2 linked regions of the Homo sapiens genome follow. Each later gene encodes a partner of the first gene's protein in a complex. Each region holds a gene or a part of one and is shown on either strand. Other genes may lie near its edges. The genes, in order: EIF4G1 and EIF4E.

Region 1 (12,467 bases):
TGGGGTGGGGGCCACGCCAGTGGGAAACTGCTGCACCCCTTGGGCTGGATAGTAGGCGCCAGCTTGGGGGAGGGGGGACGGAGAAGAATGGTGGTAGCGTCAGGGCCCAACCATATACTAATGCCTGCCTGACACCTCCCACCCCAAAACCTCTCACCACCCACAGCCGGCCCCTTGCCTTGCCCTGCCCTGCCCTCCTCCCCCAGGGAATTAGGTGTCTGTCAAAGCTGGGGAACCAGTCTGAACTGCGTTTACAAGAATTCCTAACACACACACACACACAAACACACACACACACACACACACACACACACACACACACACCCCTCGTAGGCAGGCACTCTTTCCTACCACACACCAGTGACCAGGAGGACTTATGTCTGTCCTTCCACCGTACAAGTTACTCTCGTGTGTGTACCCCACCCGCTATCAACATGTACACACATACTCTGAACCTGAAACAGAACCAGGTCTTTGGCTGGTAATGAGAGAAAGAGATCTGCCAACCCTGTTCCATTTAACTTGAGTCTAGTTCCTGTCTCCAGCCCTTTACAAAGGGGCAAAGAAACAAAGTAACATTATGAACTAGGCTCAAGATGAAGAAAAATTAATTCCTTAAAGCAAACTATCTCCAAAGTGGGTGAGTTCTTTTTTCCCCTTAATTTTTTTTTTTTTTTGAGATGGAGTCTCACTCTATTGCCCAGGCTGGAATACAGTGGCACAATCTTGGTTCACTGCAATCTCCACATCCCGGGTTCAAGCGATCCTCCTGCCTCAGCCTCCCGAATAGCTGGGATTACAAGAGTGCATCACCAGGCCTAATTTTTGTATTTTTAGTTGAGACAGGGCCAGGCGTGGTGGCTCACGCCTATAATCTCAGCACTTTGGGAGGCTGAGGCAGGTGGATCACTTGAGGCCAGGAGTTCGAGACCAGCCTGGTCAACATGATGAAACACCATCTCTACTAAAAACACAAAAATTAGCTGGGTGTGGTGGCACACGCCTGTAATCCCAGCTACTCGGGAGGCTGAGGCAGGAGAATCACTTGAACCCAAGAGGCGGAGGCTGCAGAGAGCCAAGACTGTGCGACTACATTCCAGCCTGGGTGACAGAGCGAGACTCCGTCTCAAAAAGAAAATTAAAATAATAACAATAAAATTTAGTAGAGACGGAGCTTCACTATGTTGGCCAGGCTGGTCTCGAACACCTGACCTCAAGTGATCCGCCTGTCTTGGCCTCCCAAAGTGCTGGGACTACAGGCGTGAGCCACCGTGCTCAGCCCCCCTCAAATTTTAAAATAGAGACAGGGTCTCACTAAGTTTCCCAGGCTGGTCTCAAACTCCTGGCCTTAAGCAGTCCTCCTGACTCCCAAAGTGCTGGGATTACAAGCAAGATCCGGGCACATTCTTTAATTTCATCCCTAAATTCCACTTGTTTTTGACAAGCACAAGTGTATTTGTTTAAATTTTGCATACATATAAACAAAAACATACATGTATGAGAGATTCATACTCAAAACTTTTCCTGATAGGTGATCAAAAAACTTGGAAGCCACTGCCATAAAGAACAGACTAATCCTTCCCTAGAACATAAATAAAAAATAGCTACAAAAACCTCCCAAATTTGCATTACATGGGCTCCCAACCATGGAAGAAGTGTCACAGGGAAAGCCTACTAATAGGCTCTCAGGCTGGTGCCTGATCCTACATTCCCTGATGTGGGAAAGACTCTTAACTCTCCTGGCAATAAAATCAAATTTTCTCCCCACAATCAACACCAGTTAAATATTAAGCACCAATCCCTACCACCTATTAACCTTATCATTTTTAGACCAGAAGCCAAGCCTGGGAAGGGTCTTCTGCTTTAGAAATCAGCAGATGAGTTTAGATGCTCCCTTGGGCTTGTTCTCACCTCTGACTCCCTCCCCTGCTTACCGTAGGTCCCAAATTCTGTAGGGCTTGCACCTGGATAGAAGCCTGGGGCTCCTGGCTGCACAGGGTACTGCTGTGTCGGGACAACGTATGTGGAACGCCCCTGGTGGGGAAGGGGGAGAGGGAGAGAAGGAGTTGAGGGAGCTATGAGTTCCATATCAGACTCCAAAAAGAACATAGGTCAAGACAAGACAAGCCAACTCTGGGCAATGACCAGAAGGAAGTCCCACCTCTGGAAAAGCAATGGAACTGGAGGGTCAGGGTGAGTTAAGTGAGAGGTATAGGGGTCTGTGGCTTCTAGGCTCCAAGCCCCCAGCCTCACCTGTCCAGGGATGTAGTAGGCCCCCTGGGAGGCTGGGTAGGAGATCTGGGAAGGGATCATCATTACTTGGGATCCAGCAGGGTAGACATGGGCAGCTGGGCCAGGGCGGGCAGGGGCTGCACTCTGCACTCGGGAGGCTGCACTGCTCGGGGGCTGGGCCCGGCTAGGGTAGAAGTGCTGTCAGGAGGGAGGAAAGCAGTTGGCATTGTAAAGAGAAGGAAGTGGACAAAAAATTGCCACTCCACAATGTCTCTATAGCCTGGAAAGAAGTACTGTGGGCTTCAGAACATGGCGACCAATCCTTCCAAGACCACTTGACCAAATGGCTAAGCGGCTTCTTGTACACACACATGCCCTCCAAACCTCCAAATTCAGATGTACACTTTGCATCCTGCAGAGATTTACTCTCTCACTGCCATGCATACACACGTCACCTCTACCAAACTACCCCTCTGCAGAGGCTTCCTAACACCGAGATGCATCATGCCTAAGTAAGGCCCTTTCGGGCAACATATCCCCAGCATGCACTGCTCCACCAGCATGTAATGAGGAGCTAACCATAACATGCAACAGCATCCCAGTCCCCAGATGCGCGTTCTTCAAGATGTAGCCCCTAACATGCATCACTCGGCCTCCAACTGAGAACCTGGACACCAAACAAGTCACTACCCTGAAGATCCCCATTCCCTGTGTCTAGCCCCTGACTAGGGTGGAGGGTAAGGATGAGACCAGAAGACTGTCCAGGGTTGGGAAAGGGATATTACCTGCAGAGACCTGAATCCTCCCTGAGAGCACATGGGGATAGGAAAGAAGAGAATTACCCCCAAGGTGATGGCGGGGGGAGGGAATGAAGGCAATAAGACAGGACAAGAATCCTCCCACTTAGTAAGGAAGAAGCTGGGGAACAGAGAAAGGCAAGGACCAGCTGGAGTGTTTACCTCACCACAGTCCAAAGAGAAAGCAGAGAGAGCAATAGAGCAATAGCAGCCTCCGGTAAAAGGAGCAAATAGGAAAGCAAGAGCTGGCAGCAGGGCCCAAAGCACTGCCCCCAATTCTCAGAGGCACTAGGATCCCAGTAATGCCACCCTCATTGACAACATACTATCCAAGGGACCAGCCACCGTGAGTAATCAACAGGGCAAGGCGCAGAGCCGCATGAAAGAACACAGAGGATTAAGGCCAGGTATGGGGCCTCCAGTTTCCATCCTAGACCTAAACTGGCCAAAGCTTTCCACTGCTCCCACCCAGGTCCCCTACTCCCCTCCCCACAGCCCCTCACCTGGCGGGGCTGAGAAGGCGTGTTCATTTGTGTCGCTTGTGGCGTACTGAACACCACCGGCGCTGTCTGCCCCGGGGGAAACGCTGGCTGAAGAGGGGAGACCAGAGTTCAGCAAGAGGGGAAGCCCAGGTGGGGCAGAAACCCAAGCTGGTGAAATAAGGGGAGCAGATCTGCGGCAAGAGCCTTAACAATCCACATACCCCCTCCCCGTGACAGCCCCCGGGGACAGCCCAGGGGCCCTGTCTCAATTTGGCAGCAGGCGGCTGCACTTTGCCCTGACACAGATGGGGGTAGGAAGATCCAGAGGCTGGAGACTGCCTGGTCTCCCCCACCCCCACCCCTGCTAATTCCTCCCTAATTACCTGTGGGAGTCCGGGGGATGGGGCGGGTGGGGGGCCTGTGGACTGTGGAGCTTTGTTCATTTCATTTGGTGCCACATCAGGGTCCCCCCAGCACCTGTTGGGAAAGAGTGGCGCTCAGGAAGAGGAAGGGACCCAAGCTTAAGGCAAATGGGGCGGTGAAAGGGTTGATGCAAGGGCTGGGTCCCATACGGAGTCCCAGAGATGCCAAGAGGGTGAAGCAGAAAAGATACAGCCTGTCCCCACCAACATGCTGTCAAACCCGCATCACTTCCAACCAACCCCTGACCTACTGAAACAGACCCCTCACTCACCCCCTCGATTAAGAACAAGTCCACGGTGCGGCCTACAGGTTCTGGGCATCCGAGGGCCTGGGGTTGGGAGGTGAGGGTATCAACCTGGCTCCGCGGGGCCCCAGACCAACCAGACCGGAAATTCCAGGTCTCGCTGGCACCAGGCTCCCGGATCACGAACGGAGCTAGCTGCTTCGGCCGTGGCGTCCCCACCCCCCACCCGGGGACACCGGGTTCGGGCCTGGCCCAGGGGCACACAGGATACGCCTGCCGCCGGGGAACCCGCACTGGGCCAGAAGCTAGGCCTGCCGCCGCCCAGGAGTGTAGGCCAGGAAGGGCGGGAGTCAGGCCCTAAAAGGCCAGGCGGGCGGCGGCCGTCGAGGAGCCGGTTTCAGGCAAGTGAGGGTCGGCCCGGAGGGCGGGCGGGGCCGGGGGCTCCTCCCTGCCCGCCGCCACCGCCTCCCTCCCCTGCGCCCTCCCTGCGCAGCGCGGGCCAGTGCCAAAGAACAACGTGTCACTTCCCGGCGGCCTGGCCGCGAAGGGGGGAGGGGGCGGCGGGCCGGGAGCCGTGGTGCCTGCGCCCGTGGGCTGCCGGGCCTCCTCGGGTCAGGCCGAGGTGGCATTTCGCGGCGACGAACCCGGCGCCCTACCAGCCCGCGGGGCCCGCATAGTCCGGCCCTGCGCTCCCCACCCCCACCCAGCAGCCAGGCCCGGCCGGGCCAGGCACACGTGGGCCGGGGATCGGGACCCTGGCGGGCCGGGGCCCTGGGTCGGGCCGCGGGGCCAGGGCGCCGGGGCGGCGGCGCAGGGTGGCCGGTCCCGGCCCGGATGGCGGCGGATGCGGGGGGAGGGGGTGGGGGGGCCGGGTCGGGCCCGGACATGGCGGCTTTACCTTCAGTCTCCTTCAGTCCGCGCGGCCGAGCCCCACGCAGCCGCACAGACGTAGTCCACAACCATTTCCGGCTCCCCGCACAGATCCCGCTCGGCGGCCACCGCTTCTCCGCAGGCGCAGCCGGCGCCCCCACGTGACCGGCGCAGGGGGCGGAGCCGCGCCGGGCGATCTGCGCCGCCGAGCACATGGGATTTGCCCCCGCCCCGTCACGTGACAGCCACAGCCCGCCCCCGTGTCCCCTCCCGAACTTTGAAACTCCCAGACCGATTCCCCTCTGTGTTTCTCTCTGTTCCGCGATTCTTTAGTTCATTCATATTTTAAGCAACCATTTATTGAGTGCATGCTAAGTACAAGGCGAAGTGCTGGTTGAGGGCTGAGAAACTGAAATCAAAGTCTCGGCAAAAAAAAAAAAAAAATAAGCGGGGCGCGGTGGCTCACACCTTAATCCCAGTACTTTGGGAGGCCGAGGTGGGCGGATCACGAGGTCAAGAGATCGAGACCATCCTGGCCAACATGGTGAAACCCCGTCTTTACTAAAAATACAAAAATTAGCCGGGCGTGGTGGCGCACCCGTAGTCCCAGCTACTTGGGAGGCTGAGGCAGGAGAATTGTTTGAGCCCGGGAGGCAGAGGTTGCAGTGAGCGGAGATTGTGCCACTGCACTCTAGCCTAGCCTGGCGACAGGGCGAGACTCCATCTCAAAAAAAAAAAAGAAAGAAATTAAAGACTCCGTCCTGCCTAAGTAAATCGTGATACAATACGAATTATGCAGGCTTTGAAAATAATTTAGATTAGGTCATTGAAAGGCCAATAACAAAGGAAATTAAAAGGATAGAAACATTCTAATTAGGCAAGTAGTATGAGATTTGTAGTTTAAAAAGATCATGGGCCGGGCGCAGTGGCTCACGCCTGTAATCCCAGCACTTTGGGAGGCCGAGGCGGGCGGATCACGGGGTCAGGAGATCTAGACCATCCTGGCCAACATGGTGAAACCCCGTCTCTACTAAAATACAAAAAATTAGCTGGGCCTGGTGGCGCACGCCTGTAGTCCTAGCTACTCGGTAGGCAGAGGCAGAGAATTGCTTGAACCCGGGAGGCGGAGGTTGCAGTGAGCCGAAATTACGCCACTGCACTCTAGCCTGGCGACAGGGTGAGACTCCATCTCAAAAAAAAAAAAAAAGAAAGAAAAAAAGAAATTAAAGACTCAGTCCTGCCTAAGTAAATCGTGATACAACACGAATTATGCAGGCTTTGAAAAGAATTTAGATTAGGTCCTTGAAAGGCCTATAACAAAGGAAATTAAAAGGATAGAAACATTCTAACTAGGCAAGTAGTATGAGATTTGTCGTTTAAAAAGTTAGAAACATTCTAACTAGGCAAGTAGTATGAGATTTGTCGTTTAAAAGGATCATGGGCCGGGCGCGGTGGTTCACGCCTGTAATCCCAGCACTTTGGAAGGCCGAGGCGGGCGGATCACGGGGTCAGGGCGGATCACGGGGTCACCATCCTGGCCAACATGGTGAAACCCCCATCTCTACTAAAATACAAAAAATTAGACGGGTCTGGTGGCGTGCGCCTGTAGTCCCAGCCACTCAGGAGGCAGAGGCAGAAAACTGCTTGAACCCGGGAGGCAGAGCTTGCAGTGAGCCAAGATTGCGCCACTGCACTCTAGCCTGGATGACAGTGAGACTCTGTCTCAAAAAATAAAAATAAAAATAAAAAATAAAGGCAGGCACGGTGGCTCACGCCTGTAATTCCAGCACTTTGGGAGGCCAAGGCAGGCAGATCACCTGAAGTCAGGAGTTCGAGAGCACCCTGGCCAACATGGTGAAACCTCATCTCTACTATAAATAGAAAAATCAGCCAGATGTGGTGGCAAGCACCTGTAGTCCCAGCTAGTGGAGAGGCTAAGGCAGGAGAATCGCTTGAACCTGGGAGTTGGAGGCTGCAGTGACCTGAGATCACAACTGCATTCCAGCCTGGGCAACAGAGTGAGACTCTGTTTCAAATAAATAAATAAATAAATGAAATAAAATATAAAAAGAGCAGACACTCCCACGGAGGGGCAAAAGCGTAAGGATGGAAGAATAAGGACAGAAGAGAAGTAATCTTAAAACTGACAGCCGGTCGGGGGCGGTGGCTCACGCCTGTAATCCCAGTATTTTGGGAGGCTGAGGCAGGCGGATCACCTGAGATCGGGAGTTTGAGACCAGCCTGACCAACATAGAGAAACCCCGTCTCTACTAAAAATATACAAAAATTAGCCAGGCATGGTTGCGCATGCCTATAATCGCAGCTACTCAGGAGGCTGAGGCAGGAGAATTGCTTGAACCCGGGAGGTGGAGCTTGCGGTGAGCTGAGATCCTGCCATTGCACTCCAGCCTGGGCAACATGAGCGAAACTCCGTCTCAAAAAAAAAAAGAAAAAGCTGACAGAGGCCAGAAGGGACCATCATCTACAGCCAAATCCACAGGTCAGATTGCTTGAGTTTTCATCCAAACTCTGATACTTATTACCTGGCCAGAATTTGTTAACTTTCCCTACTCAATCAAGTCCCCCAAATATATTGTTGCTTACGTAATAGATAGTGCCTAACCTGAAAATCTGGGATTCATCCTATATTCCTTCTCCATCCACACACTACATCTAATCAGACACCAGGTCTTACTGGTATTTGGATCAAAATCAAGTCCTATTGATCTTATCTTTTAAAAAATAACTATTCTACCCTTCCCTATGTCCCCATTTCAACTGCCTTAGTTCAAGCATTCATTTTCCTTGCCTGCTCTCCTGTCCTCCAGGGTTAGCTTTCTCACCCAGATAGCTGATCATGTCACTTTTCTGCTCTCATTCAGTGGGCCCCATTGAAAGATACTGTCAAATTCTTAGCACAACAAAGCTCTTGTAAACCTAGTCTGAGCCTGAATTTCCAGCTGTATCTCCTACCACCCTTTTCCCTGGCCCCTATACATTTAGCCAAACCAAATTATCTGTAAGTTTCTGAAAACAGCTTTTCCTCCTTCTTGCCTTTGCTACTCCCTTAGCTATATTCTGCCCTCTTTTCCTCTGTACAAACTTATCTTCCTCTAAGGATATAAGCTTCCTCAAAGTCCCCCGATTGCCCCAGGCACTTAGGCCCCATCTCAGTGATACCAGGGTACCTTGTTCACACCCTGGTAAGTATCGATCACAGTTGTTTTCATCATTTCATTAAACTTTTTGAGCATAGGGGTTTTTTTCTGTATTTGCATCCCCATAAATTAGACGAATGTCTGATGCAGAGTAAGGCTCCACTGCTATTCACTGATGAATGAAGAACTAAAGGTGAAAGGTTAAAAGCCACTATGAAACTGTCTTATTCTAAAGCACAATCACCTAAATCACAATTTGGGAGAGAATCATTCTTTTTAGTTTACAAATCACTTTTTATTCTAACATCACCACCACTGGAAATCAGGTAAGGCAACTACTATATCCACATTATATAATAACAGAGGCTCATCACATCACACATGCTAACTTGAAGATTATGGCAGGAACCATAAAGGGGCTCAACAGGGATTCCTTAATCCTGTTTCAACCTTTTTATACAGGCTGCCAAGATGACTCAATCCAAAATTGCTGATGTCTCATGCCTGTAATCCCAGCTACCTGAGAGGCTGATGTGGGAGAATCACTTAAGCCTAGAAGTTCAAGGCTGCAGTGAGCCATGATCATGCCACTGCACTCCAGCCTGGGCCACAAAGTGAGACTTTGTCTCTAAAAAAATTTAGTAATAAAATAACTGGGCCAGGTGTGGTGGCTTACACCTGTAATCCCAGCACTTTGGGAGGCCGAGGCAGGTGGATCACAAGGTCAGATCGAGACCATCCTGGCCAACATGGTGAAACCCCGTCTCTACTAAAAATACAAAAATTAGCAGAGCATGGTGGCGCATGCCTGTAGTCCCAGCTACTCAGGAGGCTGAGGCAGACAGTCTCTTGAACCCCAGACGCAGAGTGAGCCGAGATCACGCCACTGCACTCCAGCCTGGGCAACAGAGCACGACTCTGTCTCAAAATAAATAAATAAATAAATAGCCAGGCATACTGGCTCATGCCTGTGATCCCAGCACTTTGGGAGCTGAGGTGGAAGGATCCCTTGAGGCCAAGAGATTGAGACCAGCGTGGGCAACACAGCAAAACCCCCACCTCCACAAAAATAAAAGTAGGCCAGCTGTGGTGGGTCATGCCTATAGTCCTAGTTACTACTTGGGAGGCTGAGTCAGGAGGATCACTTGAGTCCAGGAGTTTGAGGCTACAGTGAGCTATGACTGTGCCACTGCACTCCAGACTGAGTGATAAGAGTGAGACCATTTCAAAAAAAAAAAAAAAAAGCCAGAAGTGGTGGTACACACCTGTAGCCCTACCTTACCTGCTTGGGAGGCTGAGGGTCAAGCCTTCTTGAATCCACTTTCTACAAGGACATCCTAGAAGTAGATGTTAACATGATCAAATTCCTCATAGCAGCCTCCCAAGAGGGACAGATGGTTGCGGGAGGTAAAGATGTCCTTTTCATTCAGTAGCACGTAAGTCAAGTTAGAAAAGTATGAGGCTGCCCACTCTTGGGCATCCTTAGCCCAAGGTCAGAAGATGATAGGCTTGAAGAGGGTGTATTGGTGGTGGAGGGTGAGTGTGGGGGGTTATTTACAGGATCCACAAGCCCCCTGAAGTTATTTGGAAGAGTTTGTGTAAAAATTTGTGTATTTGCGTCTCCTAGGAAGAATATCCATTGGCTGGGCACGGTGGCTCACACCTGTAATCCCAGCACTTTGGGAGGCCGAGGCAGGTGGATCATCTGAGGTCAGGAGTTCGAGACCATCCTGGCCAACATGGTGAAACCCCGTCTATTAAAAATACAAAAATTTGCCGGGTGCGGTGGCTCACGCCTATAATCCCAGCACTTTGGGAGGTTGAGGCAGGCGGATCACAAGGTCAGGAGATCGAGACCATCCTGGCTAACATGGTGAAACCCCGTCTCTACTAAAAATATGAAAAATTAGCCAGGCGTGGTGGCAGGTGCCTGTAATCCCAGCTACTCGGGAGGCTGAGGTAGGAGAATGGCGTGAACCCGGGAGGTGGAGCTTGCAGTGAGCCAAGATCGCACCACTGCACTCCAGCCTGGATGACACAGCGAGACTCCATCTCAAAAAAACAAAAACAAAAAACAAAAATTAGCCGGGCGTGGTGGCAGGCACCTGTAGTCCCAGCTACTTGGGAGGCTGAGGCAGGAGAATGGCGTGAACCCGGAAGGCAGGCGTTGCAGTGAGCCGAGACTGCCTCACTGCACTCCAGCCTGGGGGAGACAGCAAGACTCTGTCTCAAACAAAACAAAACAAAACAAAAAGAAGATCCATTACATTTATTGGCTTCTCAAGGGTTCTAAGAAAATGCAAAGAGAAGATGATTAGAAAGGAGGGGCTTAGTTTTTTCCACCCAGGGGAGGGAAGGGGCTCAGTTCTTTCCATCCAGGGCAGTGCTGCTAACCTAAACTCAGCGTTGCTCCTAACAATGCCCTCTCACTTCCACTCCTTACTCTAGTTTAGACTCCAGCCATGACACCCCAGAAAACAGACACAGAGAGACCTTGGGGATAAAAGTCTTTATTGAACAACCTTATCTCACTCAGTAACAAAAGAGCAGGAGGCGACAATTCCCCCAGAAGTCTGCAGCCGTGTCCACCCTTGGCAGCAGGATGCATGGCCTGCTGATAACATCAGCTGCAGTTCAGAGCCCCTGGTGGTCACTTAGAGATCATAATTGGGGTTCTTCCGAAGGATAACAAAACCTTCCAGAATGGGGGTAACAGGAAGAAACTCCTCAGTGGCCAATTCTGCCCGTTCCCCGTGGGCCAACAACACTGGGGTTGTATGCGTCTGGAACCCTGTGATAGTCTTCGGCTTGCCAGCCTGGCCCACCACATCCACTGCCTGTAGGGTAAGAAAATTGAAAAGAGAGATGGAAAAGTAGCGACAAGCCACCGCCCACGCCAGTTTCAGCAAAGCAAGTATATGTACATTCTCCAGTTTGAGAATACAGCCTGAGCCCTCCCCTCTACTCAGCCTCTCACCTGGCCCACACGGACAGACACTGGCAATGGCCGCAGCTCCTCATCAAACGTAACCAGCATTCGGGGCTGCATGGCAGCCACCAGCCCATACAATACATAGTGTGATTTGCCTAGAATAACTGAGGGAAGCAGACAGGACAAAAAGTTAAGAGACAAAAAGACAGGCCTGGCCAGAAACATTGAGAGCCCACCTCAGCGCTGACCCTTTAACCCGTCAGTCATACGACTGAATCCACACTCCTCCCCTCATACACCCTACTACGAACCAGAGACGCCCCCACCTCACTTTGCTTACAGCCCTTAGACTTGAAAATCGCATTTCCCCAGTGACTTAGGAGCAGACGCTGGGCACATCACCCTCAAATCTCTTTGGGCCAGATCAAAAGTGTGGGTGATGAAAGTCTCATGTCACAGGCCCAAAGCCTGTCTCAGAAACCTAGAGCGATACAGAGCTAAACTGGGGTCTTGAACCTAAATTATCAAAGTGGCCCTGGAAAGGGTGGAGTCAGAGCCCTGCATGCTATGATATAAAATTTCTGACAGGAACTCACTGTTTCGAACATCCAGGAAAGAGACAAGCACAGTGAGCAGTCCAGCCACGGCCACCTGGCTCATAAGCTGCCGGTCGCTGTGGTAGGGGCAGAGGGTAAGGGTGCCCTTCCCTAAATGTGTCAGGCCCTGAAAAAAACAGAGGGAAGTAGAGGTGAGGAGTTACCACTGAGGAGACATCGCCTAACCCAGCCAAACAGAAATCTCCCACTTGGTCACATCTTTCCTCCTGGGCCAACACTCCATGTTCCTCCTTCCATCACCACAGATACTTCCCCGGCACGCTCTGTGGAGGAGTTCTATTCTTTACCTGTGCCAAGCGCACCATGAAGAGGTTGTTTGGGTCCTTGGCATGATATTGAGCTAACTGGCGCAGCATTGCAGCCAGACGGGCATTATTGGTACCTGGAAATGTTAAGCATTACAGAAGTGAAAAAAGGGGCTTCAAATCTTCCCCCAATCTGTTTATGACCTTCTTCTGCCGGATACTCACCACTGCCCACCATGCCCATGGCAAAAATGGAGTTATAGGAAACTTCTGGATCAGCATCATGAGAGAATTTGCTTAGGGTATCCAGGATGTTGAGTCGTGGATTTGAAACAGAGATGAGGGCCAGTGCTAAAGGTACAGCCCTCCGGAGTGTAGGCTCCCCATATCTCAGCTGATGATCCAAGAAAATACAACAGTAAGGCGGAATGCAGTAAAAACAAATTCCATTACAGGAGTGGACTGAT
Region 2 (12,098 bases), on another chromosome or scaffold:
TGTTTTCAGTGCAATATCTGGAATTTCCTGTACCAGAGATTTTAAGATATCAAAGGCTGAAGTGTTCAGAATTCACGGTTTGTCAAGGCAATGCCAGTATCTATCATGATACTTTATTCATTTCATTATACTTTGATCAACCTCAAGAAGAATAGTTGAAATATTTTTGAAATTTTGTTTCTGTATAGCAGAAAGTTAAGAATTGGGATCATCAACTTTTGCATGACCTTAAAACAAAATTTAAGGCTGGGCTCAGTGACTCATGCCTGTAATACTAATACTTTGGGATGCTGAGGCAGGAAGATCACTTGCAGCCAGGAGTTCAAGACCAACCTGGTCAACATGAGTCCCTGTTTCTCTATAAAATAAATAAAAATTGTAAAGTCTATTTCAAGAAGTTTTGATAATTGATTCTCTTAAAAACAAAGTTAATCCAGTGTGTCTAATTTACTTGGAGAATGACTAGGGAGGTACTATTTGAGACCATGAAAGGCAAAACTCTTTAATAAGCACTTTAAATTACCTAGCAGTTATCTAAATATTCTAACTTGTACATCTTTTTTTAGGATCATATACATGCTGAATTAGTGATGCTACTCTTATGTTTTAATGTAACCCCCTCAAGATATTCTGCTCATACAAAGAAATAGATTGTGGTATAAAATTTATACATATGTATGTACATCTTCAACAGCAGAAACAATATTTTTCTGTATATTTCCAGTGCTTGGCTTCTAATAGATATTTTGTATTCATTTGTGTTGCTGAAAAAAGCAAAGCATACGATTAAAACCATAAACTTTGAGAGTATTTGAGAACATTCATTTGAGAGTAAACTTTGAGAGTATTTATTTTTTATTAAAAGCATTGACACTTAATAATAACTACATTTAAGGCCTAATAATTTATAGGTCTAGTTTTCTAGTTAAACTAGGATTATTATTCTTTGCCCATCATCAAAACATCAAGTAGTTTTTCTTCTCTAGTTTTGTTTATTCAGGACTCTTAAATAACTCCAGTCTTCTGCACCCCCCAAAAAAAAGCTTTTCATTCTCCTACAGAGAAAAAGGAAGCCTTGAGCCACCTTCCCCAATCAGATTTGCATTTATCTAGTTTGTTTGGCTTTTACCAGTTTACATAATTCTACCTTCTAATTAGAACAGTTCTCCATGCTTCAGTTACATGTAGTCAATGTCATTACATAGTAGGTTTTTATACCATAACTTAGAGATATGAAGGATTTTTCAGTTTTCTATAAATGTGTGGGCCACTTCCTAATTTCTGTTTTTTTCTAGCAAATTTATTGCAGATAACCATTGAGTCCTTTTGTATTTATCCAGACTGCATAGTCTTAGGATTCTGTTTAGATGTGCCATTATAAATTCTCATGATGGACTTACTTGAGAGACCTTTGAGCACCACAGAAGAGAAAGGAGGCAGCAAAAGGGAAAAAGTATTTTATTGAAGGTCATTCCCACAATATCCATTCATTTTATGACATTAGTAGCGCTAATTTTATAGTCACTTAGTATCCCGTCTTTTTTTGTTGCCTAGTGGAGGCTGTCATTGATGATGTAGTTGGGAGTTACCATTAGGTAGTGACTCAGCAAACCTTATGTGGTCTTAGGTTGTCTCACCTAAACTATATTTGTGTGTTATACTATGGAATTTGATTTAAAGATGCCAACTTCTTTCTTAAATCTTTTTTTTTTTTTTGAGATGGAGTCTAGCTCTGTCACCAGGCTGAAGTGCAATGGGGTGATCTCGGCTCACTGCAACCTCCGCCTCCTGGGTTCAAGCGATTTTCCTGCCTCAGCCTCCCTAGTAGCTGGGATTACAGGCGCATGCCACCACGCCCGGCTAATTTTTGTATTTTTAGTAGAGACAGGGTTTCATCATGTTGGTCAGGCTGGTCTCGAACTCCTGACCTCATGATCCACCTGCCTCGGCCTCCCAAAGTGCTGGGATTACAGGCGTGAGCCACTGCACCCGGCCCTTAAATCTTTACCTGAAATATTCCTAGATGGGGTTAACATAGCACCAGGAGAACCAGACTAAGGATAGTAGAATCATCCATGGTCTGTAGACACAGCTAAGATCATTATTTCTGCCATCTAATATTGGAGACAAGCAAAAGATTCTTAAGAGTTGCCAATTTTTAAATCAATTTTGCTGTAAAAGACTACAGGAGATCAAATGATCTAAGCCTCCTACCTTCAGGCAAGCAACTAAGTCATCGCAAATGTTATTCTGTTATTTTGATACTTGGGAAATAGTTTAGAAATACAGACTGCAGGGTTCCATCTTATATTTAGGTGATTATAATCCCAAGATGTAGGGCTTGTAACTATATTTATTTATTTATTTTTCTAAAATCAGTTTTAAAATGATTATTATGTTGACTAACCAGTGACAGTTTGTGGTGTTTGGGAACCGTTGATCTATTCTACTCTTGGATACCTTCAAGGATAATGACTGTTTCAGTCATGCAATCCTGATGGTCAGGAAGTTCATCGTTTCTGGTTTTTGTTTTTGTTTTTGTTTTTGTTTTTTTATGTTTGTGAAAAAAACTGTGTATTAACTTCAGAAATTATTTCATCTACTTAAAGCCACCTTATACCTCTCTTCTCAGTTTCTTATATATATACATATGTATGCACTGAGTTAACTAACATAAAATATATTTTTGTCAGAGCAGTCACTAGAAGTTTTTTTGAAAATTATACCTGTCATCTGAAGTTGATTATTTAACTGCTTTTAAGATCTGTTTTGTCCATTTTAGAAATTGACTCCTTAGAAACAAGTAAACATGAACTTTTATCTGTTTATTTTCATCATATGTTCTAAATGTATATATATGTAAGCACCTAAACTCTATATTACATATTCTGTGTTTTTAATTGTTATTTTCTTTTACCTAGTCTGTACAACCATATCCAGTTGTCTAGTAATTTAATGCCTGGCTGTGACTACTCACTTTTTAAGGTATGCTTAATTGGTGATTTTATATATTTATTATAGGACTGGGCCATTTGGTATTCATTAAGAAATCTTACCATAAACTTAGGAATATTTGATAGTGTGATGAATAGGCTGATAATTTAATTGGCTGTAGTATGCTTTAGTATCAATATATCTTATTCTATTTGTTTATAAAAATTGAGAGAGAGTTACTCTGTGGGCACATACTGAGATTGATTTTGATGAGAGCTTTGATTATCCAGTCTACTCCTTCCTTTATATATTTGAGCAGACTGAGTTTATCAAGCATTCTTAACCTTAGGAGCATGGGTCCTTGGAATACTTATTATTGGGCTTTGTCAGTTGGTAGAGGGACGGGACATTCATTAACTGAAATTGCATAGTTTTTGCATGTATTTTCTAGCTGTAGAAATGTACAGAGCTTCTAAAATATGTTTGCTTCTCAGAAAGTTTAAGAACCTTCAAATTAAGTGAAACCCAAGATTTGATAGCTAATAAGTGACAAAGCCAGGACTCTAATTCTGCAATGTCATGCCTCTGGCTTTAAGTCTTATGTGCTGTTTAAAAACTACATCAATGGCAGTTTTATGGGCAATAAAGTAAGAAGTTGACAGTGTTGTTGCTTAACTGTTTCTAATGATTATCTCTCAAAGTCAAGGTAACAATGTTGTGTAATACTGTTGTCTTCTAACCCTGTAGGATGGTATTGAGCCTATGTGGGAAGATGAGAAAAACAAACGGGGAGGACGATGGCTAATTACATTGAACAAACAGCAGAGACGAAGTGACCTCGATCGCTTTTGGCTAGAGACAGTAAGGTTTTAAAAGTATAAAGCAGTTTTAGAGGTAGTTTTGGAATACTGATACTTAAGATATGTTATGTTTTACATTTGTTACTTAATTTAAGAGAAGGATGCCCAACACTAGAAAATCAGGGTCAGTAATTATTTTTGTTCTGTCATATGACTCCTGTTTATAGTACAGTGAAACATCCTACCACATTATAAGTCAGATATTTTAAGTGATTGGCAGTTGACTCTCACCACAGTAAGCTCACTGTGGTCATTTCATTAACCTCAAAATTATAGAACCTTACATTTTGTATGATTGAAGTTTTTGCAACCCTCTTACAGCATTGCTATATGTATACTAAACTTTTAAATACTTATATTTTTAGAGCGAGGGTCTTGCTCTGTTGCCCAGGCTGGAGTGCGGATATTTATTTATATGGCTCATTTCAGCCTCACCCTCTGGGTTCAAGTGATCCTCCCACTTCAGCCTCTTAAGTAGCTGGGACTACAGGTGCATGCCACCATGCCCAGCTAATTTTCTAATTTTTTTCCAGAGATGGGATCTTGCTATGTTGCCCAGGTTGGTCTCAAACTTCTGGCCTCAAGTGATCCTCCCACTTCAGCCTCCCAAAGTGCTGGAATTACAGGTGTGAGTCACTGTGCCTGTCCCACTAAACTTTTTAGATTAGTGAAGCAAATAATAAAATTGTTGTGTACTACCATTTGACCTACATGTTGTGATATTAACTGGAACTTCTGGCTTTACAAGACAAATTAAATATGAGATAATAAGCATTTTCTGTAGACAGAGGTTCCAAACCCCAAGCTTATAGGAGCGGGGTTTGTAGTCTCTTTTGTATCCCTAGCACTTGAAACCGTGCCTGGTTTATAGTTAGCACTTGTTAAGTTAATCACTTTAAATGTTTGAATAAGTGACTATTTTGCTTTTTTTTAGAGACAGGGTCTTGTTCTGTCGCCCAGGCTAGAGTGCAGTGGGGCCATCATAGCTCACTGTAGCCTCCTGGGTTCAAGCAATCATCCTGCCTTAGCCTCTCAAGTAGCTGGGACTACAGGTGCATGCCAGCACAGCCAGCTAATGAATGAATGACTTTTTAAGAAGAAAATTCTGTTTTTGAGGGGGAAGATCATGAGCAAATACCATTTTTGAATTCCACATTAAAAAGTCAGGACATTTCCATTTTGCAGTTAAAAAAAATCTTCTGGAGATGGATGGTAGTAGGGATGGTTGTACAACAATGTTGAATGTACTTAACACCACTGAACTGTACACTTAAAGGTGGTTAAAATGGTAAATTTTATGTTATTTGTATTTTACCACAATTAAGAAATCTGTTAGGGCTGGGCTCACACCTGTGATCTCAACACTTCAGGAGGCTGAGGCAGGCATTTCACTTAAACTCAGGAGTTCAAGACCAGTTTGGGCAACATGGCAAAACCCTGTCTCTACAAAAAATACAAAAATTAACTGGGTATGGTGACATGTCCCTGTATGTATGCCCACCTACTCAGGAGGCTGAGGTGGAAGGATCATTTGAGCCCAGGAGGTTGAGGCTGCAGTGAGCTGTGATGATCCCACTGCACTCCAGCCAGGGTGACAGAGCAAGACCCTGTCTCAAACAACAACAACAACAAAAAACCAGACCATTAACAAATATTCATAAAAAATAAGAACAAGAGGAGATTAACCATGAATAGCTATTTTTATTATTCTATTAATATTTGTTTGCTCATAAATATAAGCAGCAGCAGAGCAAATGAATATTAATAAAATCAGCTTTTATGTCTGCCATGACATTAACTGCCAAATTTGCTGAAAAAGGCTGATTTGATAGTAAATAAATGAATGAGTATTTAAAAGTCAGGACAGATCAATATATGCAAATAAAATTTACACATTTAAAAAATTAACTCTTGATTTAAAAACTGCCTTTAGTTTCTATGCAAATACAGAAGAGACATTTGCAGTGTAATGAGCTTGTTTATAATCTATTAAATGTAATTTGGGATTTTTTTTTAAGCTTCTGTGCCTTATTGGAGAATCTTTTGATGACTACAGTGATGATGTATGTGGCGCTGTTGTTAATGTTAGAGCTAAAGGTGATAAGATAGCAATATGGACTACTGAATGTGAAAACAGAGAAGCTGTTACACATATAGGGTAAGTTTTGCTCTTTGCCTACTTATTTTACAGTATTAAGATGAGTAAAACCAGAAGTTATTTTATTTGTAGCTTTAGAAATACTTCAGTTTGTAGATCCTGTTTTCCTTGTATTGTTTTCGTGAACACTTTTATAATTTTGAACGGCTCAATTGGTGCGCAACGTCTTGTTTTTTTGGGTTTTTTCACAGCTATTTATTTATTTATTTATTTAGAGATAGAGTCTCACTCTGTTGTCCAGGCTATATATAGTACAGTGGCATGATCTAGGCTCACTGCAACCTCCGCCTCCCGGGTTCAGGAGATTGTTATGTCTCAGCCTCCCGAGTAGCTGGGAATACAGGCGCATGCCACCATGCTTGGGTAATTTTTATATTTTTAGTAGAGACCAGGTTTTGCCACGTTGGCCAGGCTGGTCTTTTAACTTTTGGTCTCAAGTGATCCGTCCACCTCAGCCTCCCAAAGTGCTATCATTACAGGCATGAGCCACTGCGCCTGGCCTTTTTCATATGTTTTTTATTTCTGTAAAATTGCTTTTTCTTAGCAGTGAAGTATATAACCACTAGAGCACTCTCCTTTGGCATGTAGCATTTTTTATTCATTCACAAATGAGAATGTATTATTTCCTACTTTGAAAGTGCTGTTTGGAAAAAAGTACTACTTTGAAAAGAGCTAATGTATGCTCATAATAATAATTCAGTGATTATTGGCAAATAGTATATGTGCATTTAAAGCATGTGTGTTTACTACGTATAATTTTCATTAAAATTTATATAACATATCTTGGTTTTTGTTCCATGTTTAAAACCCACATATGTAGGGTTTTATTAAACCTTTTTTTGTAAATTTTATTCTTTGCAAAAGTGGCTTTTTTTTTTTTTTTGAGACAGGGTCTCACTGTGTTATTCAGGCAAGAGTGCAGTGGTGCAGTCATGGCTCACTTCAGCCTCAACCTCCTGGGCTCAGGTGATACTCCTACCTCAGCCACCCAATTAGCTGCAACTACAGGTGTGTATGACCACACCTGGCTATTTTCTTGTATTTTTTGTAGAGAAGAGGTTTTGCCATGTTGCCCAGACTGGTCATGAACTCCTGGACTTGATCAAGCCACCTCAGCCTTTCAAAGTGCTGAGATTACAGGCGTGAGCCACCATGCTAAACCAGCTGACATTTTTTTTCTAAGATTTCTTTTTACCTCAATTATATTAGTAATATTTGACACCAGGCGCAGTGGCTCACACCTGTAATCGCAGCACTTTGGGAGGCTGAGGCAGGTGGATCACAAGGTCAGGAGATTGAGACCATCCTGGCCAACACGGTGAAACCCCGTCTCTACTAAAAATACAAAAAAAACAATTAGCTGGGCGTGGTGGCGGGCGCCTGTAGTTCCAGCTACTTGGGAGACTGAGGCAGGAGAATGGCATGAACCCGGGAGGCGGAGCTTGCAGTGAGCCAAGATTGGGCCACTGCGCTCCAGCCTGGGAGACAGAGCGAGACTGTCTCACAAAAAAAAAAAAAAAAAAAAAAATTTGACTTACAATTTTATGTTAAAATTAAGTGCTGGTCAGTCAGTGGTCAAAATGTTTGGTTTGCCCCTTTGTGATTTTTCAAATATTATTAATTTTTCTTTTTAAAATTAATTAATTTTTTGAGACAGAGTCACACTCTGTTGCCCAGGCTGGGGTGCAGTAGCGCGATGTCAGCTCACTGCAACCTCCACCTCTTGGGTTCAAGTGATTCTCTTGCCTCAGCCTCCTGAATAGCTGGGACCACAGGCCTGAACCACTGCAGTAGTTTTTGTAGAGACAGGGTTTCGCCATGTTGGCCAGGCTGGTGTCAAACTCCTAGCCTCAAGTCATCCACCTGCCTCAGCCTCCCAAAGTGCTGGGATTTCAGGCGTGATCCATTGCTCTCAGCCATGTAAATTTTTATGTGAACATAATTTATTTCTGGATCAAAAGGTATAGGGATTTTCTACATTTCATGCTATATGGGGTTCCATAAGAGAAAAGAGTTGATTTGTCATCATATTTTAATGTTTCTTCCAGCATCAAAACCTAATTTTGGAGGATTTACTTTTTTTTTTTTTAAATGAGTTAAATTAAGAATTTTTTTCCTACGGAAGTTTTGTATTTTTGTCAATATTAAATGTTTTTGAGTGTATATTAAGACTTCAGATTTTCAAACGAAGATTTTCTTTTTTAACCTTCCAATTTGCATGACTCAATGGTCTTGCTTTTTGACATTTTTAATAATTAAGTATAATTGAAAGGAATGCATTGCATTATAATGCAAATTTGATAATTAACACTTTAGTTACCATAAAATTACTTTTTAATACCTTATTTTAGGGGGAAGGTAGTAAATCTTCTGGAAGGTATAAAAAAAACCTATCCTAGTATCATGTTGGAGGATTTAACTCCATTAATATCTTTATTCCTTTATTTTTATTTGATTTTTGCTTATTTTTGAATTTTTACTATTTTTTTCCTAAAGATTCTTTTTTCTTTTTTTTTTTTTTTTTTGAGACGGAGTCTTGCTCTGTCACCCAGGCTGGAGTGCAGTGGCACAGTCTCACTCAAGCTCACTGCAAGCTCTGCCTCCCAGGTTCACGCCATTCTCCTGCCTCAGCCTCCCGAGTTGCTGGGACTACAGGCACCTGCCACCACACCCGGCTAATTTTTTGTATTTTTAGTAGAGGCGGGGTTTCACCATGTTAGCCAGGATGGTCTCGATCTCCTGACCTCGTGATCCGCCCGCCTCGGCCTCCCAAAGTGCTGGGATTACAGGCGTGAGCCACCGCGCCCAGCCAAAGATTCAAATTTTTAAGATGACCTATGAAGCTCTCTGTGATCTTCCTCTGAAACCTTGTCAGCTTTATCTCATGTTCACTTTACTTACAAGCCATAGCCACACAGCCTAATTTTTATTTCTCAGCTTTCAAATGTGCTCATTCTCTTAACATTATCCTTTTGACCTCGTGATATTTAAAGGGGAAGACTTCTCTAATGTTGTAGATGAGATTAGAATCTCCTTGTTATACAGTATCACAGCCCTTATGTTTACTCTTTGGCACTCATGACAAGTGCCATTTTATTCTTGCAATAGAGTCATGTCTTACTTGAAAATTAGGTTGTAAAGTTAGTATGTAAAGCAGAAATTACATTCTCCCTCGAAGTGTTTCATTCACTCCCTCGAAGTGTTTAATCTCCCTCAAAGTGTTTAGTTTTTGTTTGTGCAGTCTTATAACAGGTATGGTTAATATAATTTGTGTAGTAATATACAATATTTGCTAGGGTTCAGACGTGAAATGTAACATTTTAGATCAAAGAATGAAACATGTTTGTTTTACAGATTTCTGTTTTTAAGTATGCATGTGATACAGGTCTGTCATGTATTTGTGATTATTTGATTATGTTTTCTCTACTAGACTATAAATGCAGTCAGCTCAGGGACTGTCCTTACTTTGTTCACTGTTGATTTAGTAATAATTATAGTATCATAATAAATAACAATATAATAATATAGTAATGCTCCTGTAATTTAGTAATAACATACCTGACTCGCTCTCAAATATTTTAAAAGTAATTAACCAAGAATATCGCAAAAATGAAGAGTAAATTGTGCTGAAAGGAAAAGGGTGTATAATTAATTTCCTATTTTATTCTCAAGTCTATGTTTTTTAATATAAAGACTAATAACCCTAAATTTTTAAATGTATTTCTTGTGAGTAAAAGTTAATGACTACTTTTTTCTTCTTCTTTTTTTTTTTCTTCTAGGAGGGTATACAAGGAAAGGTTAGGACTTCCTCCAAAGATAGTGATTGGTTATCAGTCCCACGCAGACACAGCTACTAAGAGCGGCTCCACCACTAAAAATAGGTTTGTTGTTTAAGAAGACACCTTCTGAGTATTCTCATAGGAGACTGCGTCAAGCAATCGAGATTTGGGAGCTGAACCAAAGCCTCTTCAAAAAGCAGAGTGGACTGCATTTAAATTTGATTTCCATCTTAATGTTACTCAGATATAAGAGAAGTCTCATTCGCCTTTGTCTTGTACTTCTGTGTTCATTTTTTTTTTTTTTTTTGGCTAGAGTTTCCACTATCCCAATCAAAGAATTACAGTACACATCCCCAGAATCCATAAATGTGTTCCTGGCCCACTCTGTAATAGTTCAGTAGAATTACCATTAATTACATACAGATTTTACCTATCCACAATAGTCAGAAAACAACTTGGCATTTCTATACTTTACAGGAAAAAAAATTCTGTTGTTCCATTTTATGCAGAAGCATATTTTGCTGGTTTGAAAGATTATGATGCATACAGTTTTCTAGCAATTTTCTTTGTTTCTTTTTACAGCATTGTCTTTGCTGTACTCTTGCTGATGGCTGCTAGATTTTAATTTATTTGTTTCCCTACTTGATAATATTAGTGATTCTGATTTCAGTTTTTCATTTGTTTTGCTTTTGTTTTTTTCCTCATGTAACATTGGTGAAGGATCCAGGAATATGACACAAAGGTGGAATAAACATTAATTTTGTGCATTCTTTGGTAATTTTTTTTGTTTTTTGTAACTACAAAGCTTTGCTACAAATTTATGCATTTCATTCAAATCAGTGATCTATGTTTGTGTGATTTCCTAAACATAATTGTGGATTATAAAAAATGTAACATCATAATTACATTCCTAACTAGAATTAGTATGTCTGTTTTTGTATCTTTATGCTGTATTTTAACACTTTGTATTACTTAGGTTATTTTGCTTTGGTTAAAAATGGCTCAAGTAGAAAAGCAGTCCCATTCATATTAAGACAGTGTACAAAACTGTAAATAAAATGTGTACAGTGAATTGTCTTTTAGACAACTAGATTTGTCCTTTTATTTCTCCATCTTTATAGAAGGAATTTGTACTTCTTATTGCAAGGCAGTCTCTATATTATGTCTTCTTTTGTGGTGTCTTCCATGTGAACAGCATAAGTTTGGAGCACTAGTTTGATTATTATGTTTATTACAATTTTTAATAAATTGAATAGGTAGTATCATATATATGGAATTAAATTGATGTGGCTATCTTTGTTTTTTTATAAAGTAAGGCACAGTCATTCAGTCTTAGGTAAATAATGTACTCTCTTAATATGTTAATACTCATGAGAATTGGGATCTGATGCATCACCATTTGATTGGTAGCAACAGTGGTTGTAAAACTTGGTTGCTGAATTGAGTTGTTTCTATGTTAAGTGTCAAAATGATAGTGTAGGGAAAGTACAGGTGGTGGGGACATATGCATTAAGAATCTTGTTAGTGTTGCAATCTAAATAGAATGGAATAAACAGGTGTTAAGACATATTTATAGTGGTAAATTGTTGTAGTATGGTATTCTGTAAACTTGAAAACTTGATCTACTCTTTGTAGGTATCATTTGAAAGCAAACTTGAAAATGTTTTGTACATAGTACATACTTGTATAGTCCTGTGAGATGAAGTATGGCTATCAGACCAAAGGATAAGCCAAACTGTAGGTAGCAGAATGGAAATTATTATTTTGAGAGGAAAATTTGTCTTTGAATGGTGATTATGACTTAATCATTTTAAAACTGATAAACTTGACAAAAACCCTGTATGAAATAAACATGAAATTAATAGCACTGATTTCATTGTAAAATTTTAAAGCAGTTTAAAGGGTACCACAGGTTATCACAGTACTCTCAATGCCACAAACACCTCTTGTTCAGTATTCTAGAAATACTGAATCAGAATTCTGTGTTTATTATAATCTCAGCATACTGTACATAATATCTGCTAGTTAAACTTGGGTAATTGGTTAAGGTGACTTACTGTCTATGTCAATATGTATAGTTTTGAGTACTTCAAGAGTTTACTTAAAAGTGATGATGTTACTGGTATGTTGGCAGTGGGTGGGACTGAAGTAGTGTATCTATTATAAATTGATCTATTTTCTTAATTCTAAGATGAAGTCCAATTTTAAGCATCAGCTTTTAGGTGCAAAGGAGGAATTAACACATTAAATGTATACAGTTCTAAATTTTTGAAATAACTGATGTGTAGCATTTGATTATTGGTATTACCATTTTAGAATCATGATGTTATTTTAAACCTTTTTCCTGGGGACAAGAAAGGATAATAA

The links.
Region 2: the proteins of EIF4G1 (region 1) and EIF4E are in contact, whole or in part, in a crystal structure (PDB 5T46), measured with the Homo sapiens proteins. Residues at the interface, in NP_937884.2 of Homo sapiens: Glu608, Lys609, Lys610, Arg611, Tyr612, Arg614, Phe616, Leu617, Leu618, Phe620, Gln621, Phe622, Ile623, Phe624, Ala625, Ser626, Met627, Gln628, Lys629, Pro630, Leu633, Pro634, Ile636, Asp638, Val639, Val640, Leu641; in NP_001959.1 of Homo sapiens: Pro31, Tyr34, Lys36, His37, Pro38, Leu39, Gln40, Phe47, Lys49, Arg61, Leu62, Ile63, Ser64, Val69, Glu70, Trp73, Ala74, Leu75, Tyr76, Asn77, His78, Ile79, Gln80, Leu85, Tyr91, Glu132, Leu135, Ile138, Gly139, Glu140.

The regions. Positions count from the first base shown.
Region 1 is NC_000003.12:184,307,284-184,319,750, reverse strand, and holds the start of EIF4G1 (eukaryotic translation initiation factor 4 gamma 1), read right to left. Parts: upstream 5,146-12,467; 5' UTR 5,077-5,145; intron 4,588-5,076; exon of another isoform or gene 4,263-4,587; 5' UTR 4,206-4,262; intron 3,989-4,205; 5' UTR 3,955-3,988; coding exon 3,895-3,954; intron 3,680-3,894; exon of another isoform or gene 3,620-3,679; coding exon 3,533-3,619; intron 3,039-3,532; coding exon of another isoform or gene 3,018-3,038; intron 2,431-3,017; coding exon 2,254-2,430; intron 2,035-2,253; coding exon 1,935-2,034; intron 63-1,934; coding exon 1-62. Other genes in the region: PSMD2 (26S proteasome non-ATPase regulatory subunit 2), read right to left, coding at 10,861-11,043, 11,184-11,302, 11,735-11,861, 12,043-12,137, 12,226-12,394.
Region 2 is NC_000004.12:98,878,776-98,890,873, reverse strand, and holds the end of EIF4E (eukaryotic translation initiation factor 4E), read left to right. Parts: intron 1-2,921; coding exon 2,922-2,985; intron 2,986-3,681; coding exon 3,682-3,795; intron 3,796-4,327; coding exon of another isoform or gene 4,328-4,420; intron 4,421-5,812; coding exon 5,813-5,952; intron 5,953-9,731; coding exon 9,732-9,846; 3' UTR 9,847-11,598; downstream 11,599-12,098. UniProt on the Homo sapiens protein: Acts in the cytoplasm to initiate and regulate protein synthesis and is required in the nucleus for export of a subset of mRNAs from the nucleus to the cytoplasm which promotes processes such as RNA capping, processing and splicing.